Linked DNA regions of Homo sapiens. The gene in region 1 interacts genetically with each later gene. Each region holds a gene or a part of one and is shown on either strand. Other genes may lie near its edges.

Evidence for each region.
Region 2: changes in CAMK2G (region 1) and PTPRE together harm fitness more than expected from each alone (negative genetic interaction), as found in Homo sapiens cells (one large-scale study listed by BioGRID).
Region 3: changes in CAMK2G (region 1) and NPR2 together harm fitness more than expected from each alone (negative genetic interaction), as found in Homo sapiens cells (one large-scale study listed by BioGRID).
Region 4: changes in CAMK2G (region 1) and SLC5A5 together harm fitness more than expected from each alone (negative genetic interaction), as found in Homo sapiens cells (one large-scale study listed by BioGRID).

The regions. Positions count from the first base shown.
Region 1 is NC_000010.11:73,811,968-73,815,586, reverse strand, and holds the end of CAMK2G (calcium/calmodulin-dependent protein kinase type II subunit gamma), read left to right. Parts: intron 1-339; coding exon 340-572; 3' UTR 573-584; intron 585-1,081; coding exon of another isoform or gene 1,082-1,143; 3' UTR 1,144-3,086; downstream 3,087-3,619.
Region 2 is NC_000010.11:127,913,572-127,917,135, forward strand, and holds part of PTPRE (receptor-type tyrosine-protein phosphatase epsilon isoform 1 precursor), read left to right. Parts: intron 1-3,564. UniProt on the Homo sapiens protein: Isoform 1 plays a critical role in signaling transduction pathways and phosphoprotein network topology in red blood cells. May play a role in osteoclast formation and function.
Region 3 is NC_000009.12:35,790,226-35,794,393, forward strand, and holds the start of NPR2 (atrial natriuretic peptide receptor 2 isoform 1 precursor), read left to right. Parts: upstream 1-1,365; 5' UTR 1,366-2,183; coding exon 2,184-2,850; intron 2,851-3,672; coding exon 3,673-3,878; intron 3,879-4,168. UniProt on the Homo sapiens protein: Receptor for the C-type natriuretic peptide NPPC/CNP hormone. Has guanylate cyclase activity upon binding of its ligand. May play a role in the regulation of skeletal growth.
Region 4 is NC_000019.10:17,878,413-17,881,976, forward strand, and holds part of SLC5A5 (sodium/iodide cotransporter), read left to right. Parts: intron 1-2,419; coding exon of another isoform or gene 2,420-2,452; coding exon 2,453-2,541; intron 2,542-3,547; coding exon 3,548-3,564. UniProt on the Homo sapiens protein: Sodium:iodide symporter that mediates the transport of iodide into the thyroid gland. Can also mediate the transport of chlorate, thiocynate, nitrate and selenocynate.

The DNA.
Region 1 (3,619 bases):
ATTCCTTGAGCCTATTTCCTCATCTTATAATGAAGAAAATATTATCCACCAAGAAATACAGCTCGGGCATGTAAAACCCCAGCACAATGCCTGATTAAAAGCGCAGCAGGTACTGTCACTGTTACCCATCTTTCTGTTCCTTTTGGATAAAGGAGACTAATGTAATGTGGCATCCTGGCCTCTGGAGGGCGTTCAGGGGTTCGGGGGTGGGGGGGGGCGGTACTTGGAGATTCTGGGAGTGGTTGCTTGGGAGATGGTAAGACTTGGAAGTGCAGGCTGGGAGGAAAATGCAGGTGCCCAGGCCTGATGTCCTCTTACCTACCCCACCCTGCCCTGCAGTCCTGTCCAAGAACAGCAAGCCTATCCATACCACCATCCTAAACCCACACGTCCACGTGATTGGGGAGGACGCAGCGTGCATCGCCTACATCCGCCTCACCCAGTACATCGACGGGCAGGGTCGGCCTCGCACCAGCCAGTCAGAAGAGACCCGGGTCTGGCACCGTCGGGATGGCAAGTGGCTCAATGTCCACTATCACTGCTCAGGGGCCCCTGCCGCACCGCTGCAGTGAGCTCAGCCACAGGTGCACCTGGTTGACGGGGGAGAGGGGCTGGAAGGGCCTGGGATAGGTGGGGTCAGAGGAAGAAGAGAAGGCTGGGAGGTGGTCCTGGGAGAGGAGGTGTGGGCCGTCCCAGAGGACTGGCAAAGCCTGGCAGAATGGTTGCAATAAGTTATGCTTGGAAATCAGACAGACTAGGGTCTGGCTCCGTGACTCCAAATTGGATGACCTCAGACAGGTTACTTCCCCTCCCTAAACTGTTTCCTTAGCTGTCAAAGAAAGGCAGAGAGTGGTGCCTACCTCATTTAATCATTGTGAGGATTAAGTAAGATACTATAAGTAAAGCACTTAGTTAGTGCTTAGCAAATGGGAGGCAGTTTTGTATTTAAGCATTAGCTTCACCCACTTTCCCCACCTTCTCAGGCCGACTTGGCCATGTGTTTAGCGTGCTAAAGTCGCTGGAACTCATCTGTGTGCTCATTGTCCTCTGTTCTGTTACCACATTCTGTCCTGTTTGACAGGGGCTTTAGGAGATTCCAGCCGGAGGTCCAACCTTCGCAGCCAGTGGCTCTGGAGGGCCTGAGTGACAGCGGCAGTCCTGTTTGTTTGAGGTTTAAAACAATTCAATTACAAAAGCGGCAGCAGCCAATGCACGCCCCTGCATGCAGCCCTCCCGCCCGCCCTTCGTGTCTGTCTCTGCTGTACCGAGGTGTTTTTTACATTTAAGAAAAAAAAAAAAGAAAAAAAGATTGTTTAAAAAAAAAAGGAATCCATACCATGATGCGTTTTAAAACCACCGACAGCCCTTGGGTTGGCAAGAAGGCAGGAGTATGTATGAGGTCCATCCTGGCATGAGCAGTGGCTCACCCACCGGCCTTGAAGAGGTGAGCTTGGCCTCTCTGGTCCCCATGGACTTAGGGGGACCAGGCAAGAACTCTGACAGAGCTTTGGGGGCCGTGATGTGATTGCAGCTCCTGAGGTGGCCTGCTTACCCCAGGTCTAGGAATGAACTTCTTTGGAACTTGCATAGGCGCCTAGAATGGGGCTGATGAGAACATCGTGACCATCAGACCTACTTGGGAGAGAACGCAGAGCTCCCAGCCTGCTGTGGAGGCAGCTGAGAAGTGGTGGCCTCAGGACTGAGAGCCCGGACGTTGCTGTACTGTCTTGTTTAGTGTAGAAGGGAAGAGAATTGGTGCTGCAGAAGTGTACCCGCCATGAAGCCGATGAGAAACCTCGTGTTAGTCTGACATGCACTCACTCATCCATTTCTATAGGATGCACAATGCATGTGGGCCCTAATATTGAGGCCTTATCCCTGCAGCTAGGAGGGGGAGGGGTTGTTGCTGCTTTGCTTCGTGTTTTCTTCTAACCTGGCAAGGAGAGAGCCAGGCCCTGGTCAGGGCTCCCGTGCCGCCTTTGGCGGTTCTGTTTCTGTGCTGATCTGGACCATCTTTGTCTTGCCTTTTCACGGTAGTGGTCCCCATGCTGACCCTCATCTGGGCCTGGGCCCTCTGCCAAGTGCCCCTGTGGGATGGGAGGAGTGAGGCAGTGGGAGAAGAGGTGGTGGTCGTTTCTATGCATTCAGGCTGCCTTTGGGGCTGCCTCCCTTCTTATTCTTCCTTGCTGCACGTCCATCTCTTTTCCTGTCTTTGAGATTGACCTGACTGCTCTGGCAAGAAGAAGAGGTGTCCTTACAGAGGCCTCTTTACTGACCAACTGAAGTATAGACTTACTGCTGGACAATCTGCATGGGCATCACCCCTCCCCGCATGTAACCCAAAAGAGGTGTCCAGAGCCAAGGCTTCTACCTTCATTGTCCCTCTCTGTGCTCAAGGAGTTCCATTCCAGGAGGAAGAGATCTATACCCTAAGCAGATAGCAAAGAAGATAATGGAGGAGCAATTGGTCATGGCCTTGGTTTCCCTCAAAACAACGCTGCAGATTTATCTGCACAAACATCTCCACTTTTGGGGGAAAGGTGGGTAGATTCCAGTTCCCTGGACTACCTTCAGGAGGCACGAGAGCTGGGAGAAGAGGCAAAGCTACAGGTTTACTTGGGAGCCAGCTGAGAAGAGAGCAGACTCACAGGTGCTGGTGCTTGGATTTAGCCAGGCTCCTCCGAGCACCTCATGCATGTCCCAGCCCCTGGGCCCTAGCCCTTTCCTGCCCTGCAGTCTGCAGTGCCAGCACGCAAATCCCTTCACCACAGGGTTTCGTTTTGCTGGCTTGAAGACAAATGGTCTTAGAATTCATTGAGACCCATAGCTTCATATGGCTGCTCCAGCCCCACTTCTTAGCATTCTTACTCCTCTTCTGGGGCTAATGTCAGCATCTATAGACAATAGACTATTAAAAAATCACCTTTTAAACAAGAAACGGAAGGCATTTGATGCAGAATTTTTGCATGACAACATAGAAATAATTTAAAAATAGTGTTTGTTCTGAATGTTGGTAGACCCTTCATAGCTTTGTTACAATGAAACCTTGAACTGAAAATATTTAATAAAATAACCTTTAAACAGTCCATTGTGTTACTGCTGTTGGAGGTTTACGGCCAGAGGCGTAGATTTTAGCAGCCTGGCTTACCAGGTTGGAGAGAGTACCTCCTCCTACTCCCTTTGGGTACTTTTGAGAATAAAACTTCCTCATGCCTGTAATCCCAGTACTTTGGGAGGCCGACGCGGGCGAATCACGAGGTCAGGAGTTCGAGACCAGCCTGGCTAATATGGTGAAACCCCGTCTCTACTAAAAAATACAAAAAATTTAGCTGGGCATAGTGGCGGGCGCCTGTAATCCCAGCTGCTCGGAAGGCTGAGGCAGGAGAATCGCTTGAACCTGGGAGGGGGAGGTTGCAGTGAGCCGAGGTCGCGCCACTGCACTCCAGCCCAGGCGACAGAGTGAGACTCCGTCTCAAAAAAAAAAAAAAAAAAAAAAAAAAAAAAAAAAAACTTCTCATAAACAGCCTCCAAACAGCGCTCGGTGCTGCGCAGGCGACGCGGGGCGGGGAGGGAGGGTGAGTGCCCTGGGAGCCGGCTGAGGGCCTCGCCCCGCCCCTGG
Region 2 (3,564 bases), about 54 Mb from region 1:
CTCCACAGTAGGACTTTCATAGGTCTGCGGTGCAGACTGGTTTGCTGTCCACAGGCTTGGCCCTGACTCCTCGGCTAACATGCACAAGGGCGCTCTGAGGGTCGGGAACGCACCCACCAAGCACAGCCCAGACGAAATGGAAGCTCCTGTCCAGGCAGGTTCCCGGTGAAACTCTAGGGAGCTCCAGCCTTCCTTTCTTCTCCAGTTTATTAAGAGGCTGGCCTCAGAGGTGGACACCTACTTCCACAATTTGATGTCCGACCCTGGGACTCTCCTCTTTACCCTGCCCCCACCTCATCCACCAGCCTTTTGGTCTGAAATCCTTGTCATGGGGTAAAGCTTTTTATTCTGTTGTTGGAAACACAGTATATGGTTTGGCTGTGTGTCCCCTCCAAATCTCATGTTGAAATGTGGTCCCCAGCGTTGGAGGTAGGGCCTGGTAGGAGGTATTGGATCATGGGGGCAGGTACCTCATGATTACTAGCGCCATCCCTTTAGTGATGAGTGAGTTCTTGCTCAGCTAGTTCACATGATATCTGGTCATTTTAAAGAATGTGGCACCCCCCACCCACTCTCTCTCTTGTTCCCACTCTCACTGTGTGGCATGCTGGCTCCCTCCCTCTGCCTTGATTGGAAGCTTCCTGAGCCTCACCTGAAGCAGGTGCCAGCATTATGCTTTGTGCACAGCCTGCAGAACCATCAGCCAATTAAACCTCATTTCCTTATAAATTACCCAGCGTCAGGTATTCCTTTATTGCAATGCAAGAACAGACTGACACACACAGCACAGGTGGAAATACAGGCTTTGCGGACACCGGTGGCCTGTTTTTCTGACACTATCATACTTCCCAGGATAGGCTCTACTCTTAACTCTTCTAACCCCATCCACTTGTTATAAAACACACTTTCAGAAAAAGGCTAGGTTGTTACTGAGGTAACATGGGATGGATCTTTGGAGGTGGGAAGGCCTCCAGCCTCCTCTGGGGAAGACAAAGTAAATCCTCCCTATGGAATTCTCCAGCTTGTTTTCTTGATTCCAGAGAGACCTGCTAGTGAATTCAACTAACAGGTTGGTTTTCAGCACAGAATATTTCCTACAGATGTCGGTGTTTCTTTCCAAATCCTTCCTCTCTTCAGGGCGCTTTCCCACTGTTCTAGACGTAGGAGAGAAAGCACTTCTCAGATGGTGAGCTTTTATCTTCCAATCTTGTCAACCGAGGAGACCTGGAAGTTCCCTTTCAACCTGGAATGTGAGCCCTGCTTGCTGGGCACGAGATAAGGACCAAGGATTGACCCAGGACAATTTCAGAGAGCACAGGGGTGGCATATCCTCATGTCAGGGCGTGGAGCTAATATTCAGACCCAAACACTCTGAATCTCTGAAGCAGAAGCTCTCTTAAAATTCCTGGGGAGGAAATCAGTATGAATTAATAAAAAGCCTGAATATTGTGGATTTTTATTAAATTCGAGGATTTATAGTAACTCAATCCAGGCCAACAAAACGTTGCCTTCCGGTACTTACTTTAATGAATAGAAAGCATGTAAATGCTCTTCCAAAGAGAATAACACATTTTAGCATCTTAAATATGTAAAAATAAAACTCCTGTACAATCCTAGTTGCACTAGGAAGTCTACTTATCAAAAAAAGAAACTTCTGTTTCCAGCCACATTATTTCAAATCATCCCAAAACTTACATTGTTACTAGTAAAATTTTTCATTGTGATTAACACTTTTTTTCCAGTATGGTTTTCCTCTTTCTGAAAGCAACCTTAGTTTCATAAACAGTTGGACATTTAAGTACTGGTCAAAAAAGTACTCTGAACCAGTAACCTCGTCCTTAATTTTGAACTGCTGTTGACTAAGCGCTCTCTTTTCCTAAGCTCATAGCAGCCCTTCGTTCAGTGCTTCAGTAATTCAATAAATTACTTTTTGCCAAGGTTGCAAACATCAGCTAAAGTTCAGTCATCTACTGGAGATGTTATCAGTCTGTCCATTTAAATTCTTTTGCGCAAAGTCCAGATTTGGACCCAAAGTAATATAAAAATGCAAGAGCCAGAAATTTAATAATTTTGTACTGTGTTGTGCCAAGCCAGGCCTATTCTTAGCTAGCCAACAACATTCTTTCAAAGGATATTTTTTGGTTTTCATCAAATGTAAATAGTGTTTAAGAGTCTGTAATATCATTTAGAAGGAACAAATGGAAGTATTAAACCTTTATTGACTACCTACAGTATATAGAGGATCTATAACTTATGATGGTTTTATTATAGTTTCTCAACCTTACAATGGGTTTATTGGGCATTGGGTACATTTTAAACTTATGATATATTCTATTTACAAGGGGTTCATCAGGATATGACCTCACTGTAAGCCCAGGAGCATCCGTACGTACAAGCACTGTGCTTAGCGCTGGAGTTACAGGGAAAAAAAAAAAAAAAGGCACGATGGCTTGTGACATCCTGTGGATGCTCCAGGTCCACAGGAAGACAGAACTCACTTCCAGGGAGTGTTAAATGTGATGCTGGATGCTCCTGTGGAGGAGGGGAGACATGGAAGGGCCTCCCCAGGTAGAGCAGTGACGTGGTCTGGCTCTGTGTCCCCACCCAAATCTCATCTTGAATTGTAATCCAAATAGTAATCCCCACATGTTGGGGGAGGGACCTTGTAGGAGGTGATTAGATCATGAGGGTGGTTTCCCCCATGCTGTTCTCATGATAGTGAGTGAGTTCTCATGAGATCTGATGGTTTTATAAGGGGCTCTTCCCCCTTCACTTCACTGTGCACTTCACTGTGCACTTCTCCTTCCTGTCGCCTTGTGAAGAAGGTGCCTTGCTTCCCCTTCCACCATGATTGTCAGTTTCCTGAGGCCTCCCCAGCCATGCTGAACTGTGAGTCAATTAAACCTCTTTCCTTTATAAATTACCCAGTCTTAGGCAGTTCTTTATAGCAGTATGAAAACAGACTAATACAAGCAGGCTTGGTTTACTGGGCCATTTCCTAGGCAGCTGACAGGGATTGAGCATTCCAGACAGAGGGGCTACCATGTGCTTGCCTGGCAGTAGGAAGCGGTGTGTCCTGTCTGGGGAAGAGCAGGTGTCTGCATGGAGCTGGAGCCCAGGGACAGAGGGGATGGGACAAAAAGGTGGAAAGTTTAAGGATCACCCAAACATTTGTACACCATCCAGGAGTCTGGATTCTGTGTGACGGACCAGCAGTTCTTACCGTGTCTTAAATTATGACCCCCTTTGTGATTCTAGGGAAGACTATGGACTCATTCTCCAGAAAAACGCATGTGTGCACACAGTCATTTGTATAGTTTCAGCAAGTCTTTCCTAACACCCCTCCCCCCATCCTGAGGCTCACAGGTTCCAGGTGTGTCCCCTTTGTGCGGCCTGGCCAGCCCCACAGAGCCCAGCAGCATGCTCAGCTGTGAGTTTGAGAAGGGGTCCCCTGCTGGCTGTGTGTGGAAAGCCAGAATGGAGGTGACGGGGGAAACCGACTCAGCAGGTTGGATTTATAGGCAACATGACCATGTGGGTGAGAGGATGAGAGTGAGAACCAAG
Region 3 (4,168 bases), on another chromosome or scaffold:
AGAAGGAGCTGTCCTGAGGCTTCCATCTCTACTGGGCTTGAGGCAAGAACATTGTTAGGGACGGCCTGCTCTTGGCCTCTGTGCCCCAGGGATTGCAAATGCATGTTCCTCAAAGGTAAGGGCTGTATCATTCGGCTTTCTTTGTATTCACAGGTACAGCTTGTGCTAGGCAGCCGGTGTTCAATAAATATCGTGCCTAAGGATAAAGTGGCATTGTCCTTAATTTCCCCCACCAAACCACTAGGTGTCGCCTTCATCTCAGGGAAACCATGCCCGTCCTCGCCCTATACACTCCCACCCCACTCCAGGGCTCCAGGAGCGCTCTTAGCTTGTGATTTCTGGAGAAATAGCTTGAAGGGGGGAGAGAAACCGTGGCTCTTAGCGCGGGCAGAGAATGGGCTTATGTGCATGTCCTTTATGACAGTTGGAGAAAAATCCCCAAGGTCCCATAGCAGTCCCTCTCAGCCACCATGAGATCATCCCTCACAAGCTGTTCTTGGGGTCAGATTGGCACTCCAGATATGAGGGCCCTAGGGAGAGCTTCCTAAGGGAAGCTGGGAGCAAGGTGGAACCCCAGGAGAGCGTGGATGGGCTTCCACTGCGGGGAGTGTCCCGCCGGTCCGTTACAGGCTTTCCCCAGGCGCCAGCCTGCGCTGTGCAGGAGACAAAAGAAAATCGAGGCCCTGACTGAGCAGATGGTGCGGAGGAAGCCGGGCGGGCTGCGGTGGGCCTCTGAGGACACGAGGAGGGCAGGGGGCATGGAGACAGCGGGGGGCCGAGAGTTGAGTCCCAAGCAAGAAGGAGCCTCGTGGACTTTCTAAGGACTGGTGGGAAGTGTACAGCAGGGGCCCCTGGCTGCTGGAGGGGCCCGTCCAGGGAGCGGGCATGGTCCGCGGTGGAGTAAGCCGCACTGCCGTCGGGAGGGCGCTATGGTTTGCTAGGTGAGGGGGCTGGTGAGGATACCACACGTCTGGGGATCCTCGACTGCTTCCTGGAGACTGGAACCACTGAGGGACTCAGGGAGTTCAGAGGGGAGACCCAAGAAGAACGGGCTGAGCGAGGGGGAGAGGACAAACCCTGGGGTCGCTGGCGTGTGTGAGATGGAAATGGAAGGAGGGGCGGCAGGGGGACCAGGGGCGTGGGGGAGACCAGGGTAGGCCCTGAGAGTGAGGGAGCGCCCGGGAACCCTGCTGGCCGGCGAGGCCTTGGTGCGGAGCCCCCAAGTGCTCACCGGGGTGGGTTTGGGACCTGGCGGTCCCGAGCGCCCGGGTGGGGGGTGGGGGAAGGCAGCCGGCGCCGGAGGGTGGGGCCGGGAGGGAGGAGGAGAGGCAGCGGGGGAGGGGCGGGGGCGGGCGGCCTGCCCGGGGGAGTCGCACTCGGCCGCCGGCGCAGCGAGCGGAGACGGGCCGGGCCGAGGCGACCTGACCCGGACGAGCGGCGCGCGCGGGGCCCAGGCGGGGGGCGGGAGGAAGCGCCGGGCAGCGCCGGCCGCCAGGGCCCAGGAGAAGCGGAGCAGAGAGGAGCGGGGACACGGGCGGGGCCGCCGTAGCTCCGGATGGGACCAGCGCCCGGGCCCGTTAGTCCAAGCAGGAGCTCCGGGAGAATCCTTCACAGGGAGATTTACCCCTGCCTTCCCCTGCCCTCCGGCCCAGGCCTCGCTTCGCTCCCCGCCTGCCCATGATCCCAGTCCTTCCGCGGCGCGGGCACCCTCCCACCTTACCCCCTTGGTCCTATGTGGCGCAGCGCCCTCCTGCCCTCCCGGCCCTTTCAGCTGTGAGGTTCCCCCAGGCCGTTTCTTTGTACCACCCGCCCCCCACCCCCACCCCATCCCAGTCCCAGATCCCCTTTTCCTTCTCAGCTTTAGATTTATCAGGCTTCTTCACCTCGCACTGTCCCCATCCTGGCCGCAGGCCCCCTCGGTCCCTCCCTCCCCCTGCCACCCCGTTCTCAGTCCTCAGTCCTTGCCCTAGGCTGGTAGCCCACTCCTTGCCCGCCCCCCGCCTTCCTCCCATCTCCCCCTCCTCTCCCCGGCCCCCAGCACCTTCTGCATCCCAGCCTACCTAGCCTACTCCTCCTCTTCCTGGCCCTCTTCCCCAGGCTCCAGGCTGGGGGGTGCTCGCGTCTCCCCTGTAGGCCAGAGCAGCCCCAAGTTCTGGGGGCGGTGGGGCTGCTGCTTTATCCCCATGGCGCTGCCATCACTTCTGCTGTTGGTGGCAGCCCTGGCAGGTGGGGTGCGTCCTCCCGGGGCGCGGAACCTGACGCTGGCGGTGGTGCTGCCAGAACACAACCTGAGCTATGCCTGGGCCTGGCCACGGGTGGGACCCGCTGTGGCACTAGCTGTGGAGGCTCTGGGCCGGGCACTGCCCGTGGACCTGCGGTTTGTCAGCTCCGAACTGGAAGGCGCCTGCTCTGAGTACCTGGCACCGCTGAGCGCTGTGGACCTCAAGCTGTACCATGACCCCGACCTGCTGTTAGGTCCCGGTTGCGTGTACCCTGCTGCCTCTGTGGCCCGCTTTGCCTCCCACTGGCGCCTTCCCCTGCTGACTGCGGGTGCTGTGGCCTCTGGTTTTTCGGCTAAGAATGACCATTATCGTACCCTGGTTCGCACTGGCCCCTCTGCTCCCAAGCTGGGTGAGTTTGTGGTGACACTACACGGGCACTTCAATTGGACTGCCCGTGCTGCCTTGCTGTACCTGGATGCTCGCACAGATGACCGGCCTCACTACTTCACCATCGAGGGCGTCTTTGAGGCCCTGCAGGGCAGCAACCTCAGTGTGCAGCACCAGGTGTATGCCCGAGAGCCAGGGGGCCCCGAGCAGGCCACCCACTTCATCCGGGCCAACGGGCGCAGTGAGTGTGGCCTGGGCTATTTTAGGGTCATGGGAGGAGGGTCGCTGTGTCCCTAAAGCTCAGCACTGGGGAACTGTAGATGGAGATAGGCATTGAGCAGCTGTATGTGGTGGTTGGGATCAAGAAGCACACGTGGACAGAGCACCTGTGAGAGGGCCAAGGCTTCATCATGGGAGCTTGTGAACACCCTAGGCAGATGCAAACAAGGAAGAAGAGAGCATGAGGGGTGAAGCCTTGTATCAAGGTGGAATGTGAAAATGAGGGGATATTAAGTTTCGGGAGCAATGTTTGTGCCCTAGAGTAGTGAATGTGATTGATAGCCACTCTGAAATGTGCCCTGTCTGTGATCAGAGCTACCACCCAGACTGGGCGCCAAGACCCCTTGGTGGTGTAAAAATAATGAGGGCTCCATGAACGGACTCAGGGCTCAGCAGATTTGGGAAAGACAGATAAAGCTCATACTGAGAAATCTGTGCTGTCTGTGCCTTTGAGCCCAGGGAAGGGCAGGGAAGAGTCAGGGAGCAGGCCGGTTGGGTGGGGAGCAGCAAGGGAGGCTCTGGGAAAGGGAGGGGCTTGAGAGTGACAGCTCCCTTCCTCTGGGGTCTGGACAGGCTCTGACTTCTGCCAGATGGTCCATATGGCCCCAGGGTACTTATGGTGGACTCCAAGAGGGGTGGGCTGGGGAGCATCTGCTTTGGGGTTGATAGGTTAGGGCACTCTCTTTCTTGCTGAAGAGGGACATCCCAGTGATTCAGAGAGGGGGCTGTGTGGGGGACCTGGATACCTTCTCAGGGTGCTCCTCTGTCATGTACCTGCTCCCAGTTGTGTATATCTGCGGCCCTCTGGAGATGCTGCATGAGATCCTGCTTCAGGCCCAGAGGGAGAATCTGACCAATGGGGATTATGTCTTCTTTTACCTGGATGTCTTTGGGGAGAGTCTCCGTGCAGGCCCCACACGTGCTACAGGCCGGCCCTGGCAGGACAATCGCACCCGGGAACAGGCCCAGGCCCTCAGAGAGGCCTTTCAGGTATCATTTGAGCCAAATCTGAAGGAGGAGGGGGAAGAGGTGCTTCGCTGGAAATTCTCTCTCACAAGACCCTAAAGAAACCCTAGGAACCAGGCAGGAATTGTGAGCCACAGGAGTAAAATGAACAGAGGCATTCTGAGTCTAGTGTCACCCTTTCTTACTTCTCTACTTTTGTGACTCTTAGTGTGCTTGCTGCCAAGACTGACTTTGGCTGCCTCCAAAATCCTAAAACACTGACTTTCCTAAGTGCCAGTAGTAGGCTATATTGTGGGGGAGAAAAGTTCAGGAAG
Region 4 (3,564 bases), on another chromosome or scaffold:
GAGAATCTCTTGAACCCGGGAGGCGGAGGTTGCGATGAAGGGAGATCGCACCACTACACTCCACCTTGGATGACAGAGTGAGACTCTGTCTCAAAAAAATAAAATAAAATAAAATAAAGAGTTCAGAGGAGGATCTGCAAGGAATGGGAAAGGTGAGTCTGGGAGGCAATGGACCGCCCTCAGTAGGTGTGAGCAGACAAGGGCCACATTCAGATCTAGAGTTCCAGAGAGTTCCAAAGATCCCCTGGGAGATGCTCAGGAGGAGATGAAACCATGACCCAGGCCGGGCATGTTGGCTCACGCCTGTAATCCCAGCACTTTTGGAGGCCGAGACAGGCAGATCACTTGAGGTTAGAAGTTCGAAACCAACCTGGCCAACATGGTGAAACCCCCCTCCACTAAAAATACAAAAATTACCTAGGCCTGGTGATGCATGCCTGTAATCCCAGCTACTCGGGAGGCTGAGGCAGGAGAATAGCTTGAACCCGGGAGGTGGAGGTTGCAGTGAGCAGAGATCGCGCCATTGCACTCCAGCCTGGGTGACAGAGAGAGACTCCATCTCAAAAAAAAAAAAAACAAAAAAAAAAAACCAAAACAAGGCTGGGCGCGGTGGCTTACGCCTATAATCTCAGCACTTTTGGAGGCTGAGGCAGGGGTATCACCTGAGGTCATGAGTTGAAGACCATCCTGACCAACATGGAAAAACCCCGTCCCTACTGAAAAATACAAAATTAGCCGGGTGTGGTGGTGCATGCCTGTAATCCCAGCTACTCGGGAGGCTGAGGCAGGAGAATAGCTTAAACCTGGGAGGCGGAGGTTGCGGTGAGCTGAGATGGCGCCATTGCACTCCAGCCTGGGCAACAAGAGAGAAACTCCGTCTCAAACAAAAATAAAAACAAAACAAAACAAACCCACAAAAACAAAAACAAAAACTGTAATCCAGCGGGAACTAATCATGTTGGTGATAATAATAATGACAGCTCTGGTCTCCCATGTCCCAAGCGTCCACTCTGTGCCTCATGCTGTTCCCTTCACCAGCAGTTAGTTCTCCATCTAATCTTTCTTCTGAGAAAGGCAGGGCAGTCACGGCTCCAACTTTACAGATGAGGAAATTGAGGCTCGGGGGGAAGTCACTGCCTGAGGTCAATGGGCAAGTCGGGGGGCGGTGCCAGGACCCATGCCTAGGTCACACCCCAAGTAGAGTTCTGACCATGGGGTTCAGAGTTAGCAGAGGGTACGGGGGACCACCCCATCTGCAGTCCTCCCTGGAGGTCAGATCCGGGACTGCTGGACTGTGTAACTTCAGGGAGGGACTGTACTCTCTGCCTCACAGTCTTCATCAATAAAATGAGGATGACACGGGTCCCTGCTTCACAGGGATCCCAGGGCTCAGAACACAGTGGGGCTCAGGGACAATTCTCAGGTTCATGCAGTTGATCAACAAATGCACATTATAGCCTGAGGAACATAGGGAGACCCCATCTTTACACAATTTTTTTTTTTTTGAGCCAGAGTCTCACTCTGTTGCCCAGGCTGGAGTGCAGTGGCGCAACCTCAGCTCACTGCAACCTCTGGCTCCCAGGATCAAGCCATTCTCTTGCCTCAGCCCCCGAGTAGCTGGGATGACAGGCATGCGCCACCATGCCCAGCTAATTTTTTTGTATTTTTTGTAGGGGTGGGGTTTTGCCATGTTGGCCAGGCTGGTCTCAAACTCCTGACCTCAGGTGATCCACCTGCCTCAGCCTCTGAATGTGCTGGGATTACAGGCATGAGCCACTGTGCCCGGCCTTTCTTTCTTTTCTTTCTTTTTTTTTTTTTTTGAGACAGAGTTTGGCTCTGTTGTGCAGGCTGGAGTGCAACGGCGCGATCTCCGCTCGCTGCAACCTCTACCTCTCAGATTCAGGCAATTCCTCTGCCTCAGCCTCCCAAGTAGCTGGGACTCCAGGTGCCAACCACCACACCCAGCTAATTTATGTATTTTGGGTAGAGATGAGGTTTCACCATGTTGGCCAGGCTGGTCTTGAACTTCTGAGCTCAAGTGATCCACCCGCCTCGGCCTCCCGAAGTGTTGGGATTACACGCGTGAGTCACCCTGCCCGGCCAGACCCCTATCTTTACACAAAAATTTAAAAAAATTAGCCAGGCATGGTGGCGCACACCTGTGGTCTCAGCTACTGGGGGACTGAAGCAGGAAGATCGCTTGAGCCCAGGAGTTCTAGGCTGCAGTGAGCCACATTCATGGGACTGCACTCCCGCCTGGGCAACAGAGCAAGATCTTTTCTCAAAACAAAACAAAACAAAACAAAACCACAGACAAAAACTAAATGCATATTAAATGCCGACTCTGAGCCCTGTCCGTCTTGGGTGCTGGGGACGTGCAGCATCAGGACAGATAGATGCCCCGGTCCTCGGGGTGCAGCTGTCTGGGAGGCTGACCCCCAGTTCTCCCCAGTACATGCCTCTGCTGGTGCTGGACATCTTCGAAGATCTGCCTGGAGTCCCCGGGCTTTTCCTGGCCTGTGCTTACAGTGGCACCCTCAGGTGAGCACCCCTGCTTGTTCATGGAGCATTATTTCAGCCCCTGGGAGCCTCCTTATCCTGGCCTGCCATCCCTCTGGGGCATGGAATGTTCTGGACCTGTCCATCAGTCCCAGTTCCTGCTTGATCCCTAGAAGACAGCTCAGGTAGGCGCTGGCAGAGAGCATGCCCTGGGCACAGGGACCCCAACTGCAAGGGTTTACCTTCTTATCACCTGTCAGGGCCACGCCTGACTCTCCTCTCTTCTTCTTCCTTCTTTCCTTCCTTCCTCCCCAGACAAATATTTGTTGAACATCTACTATGTGGCAGGTACTGTTTTTTTTTGTTTTTTTTCCGGATGGAGTCTTGCTCTGTCACCCAGGCTGGAGTGCAGTGGTGCCATCTCGGCTCACTGCAACCTCCACCTCCTGGGTTCAAGCAATTCTCCTGCCTCAGCCTCCCAAGTAGCTGGGATTACAGGTCCACGCCACCACAGCCGGCTAATTTTTGTATTTTTAGTAGAGACGGGGTTTCGCCATGTTGGCCAGGCTGGTCTTGAACTCCTGACCTCAGGTGATCTGCATGCTTTGGCCTCGCAAAGTGCTGAGATTGCAGGCATGAGCCAACGTGCTCAGCCCAGGTACTGTTGTTCTAAACCCTGGGGCACAGCCATGACCAAGCAGTCCCCTGCTTCTGCCTTCCAAGGCCACACACTCAGGTGGTTTCCACTCTTCCGGGACTTCTGGTCACATGCCCTCACTGTCCCTTTTGCAAATCTCCCACATGTGACTGCAGTCCCTCTGGAACCAGAACCCACCTGTCTGTCCCACCTGCCCTTGGTCACAGGTGTCCTTGCTCCTGTAGGGATGTCTCAGGTCTTCGGGGAGGGGAGGGGCAAATATCTCCTTCACCTTTGCAGGACTGGGTTACCCCCACCGTTGCCCTCAGGCTGGGTGAGGTCTGGCAGGCCAGATGGTGTGGACGGTCTCTCCATATGGCCTGAGGACCCCCCGCTGCCTTCCTCACACAGCACAGCATCCACCAGCA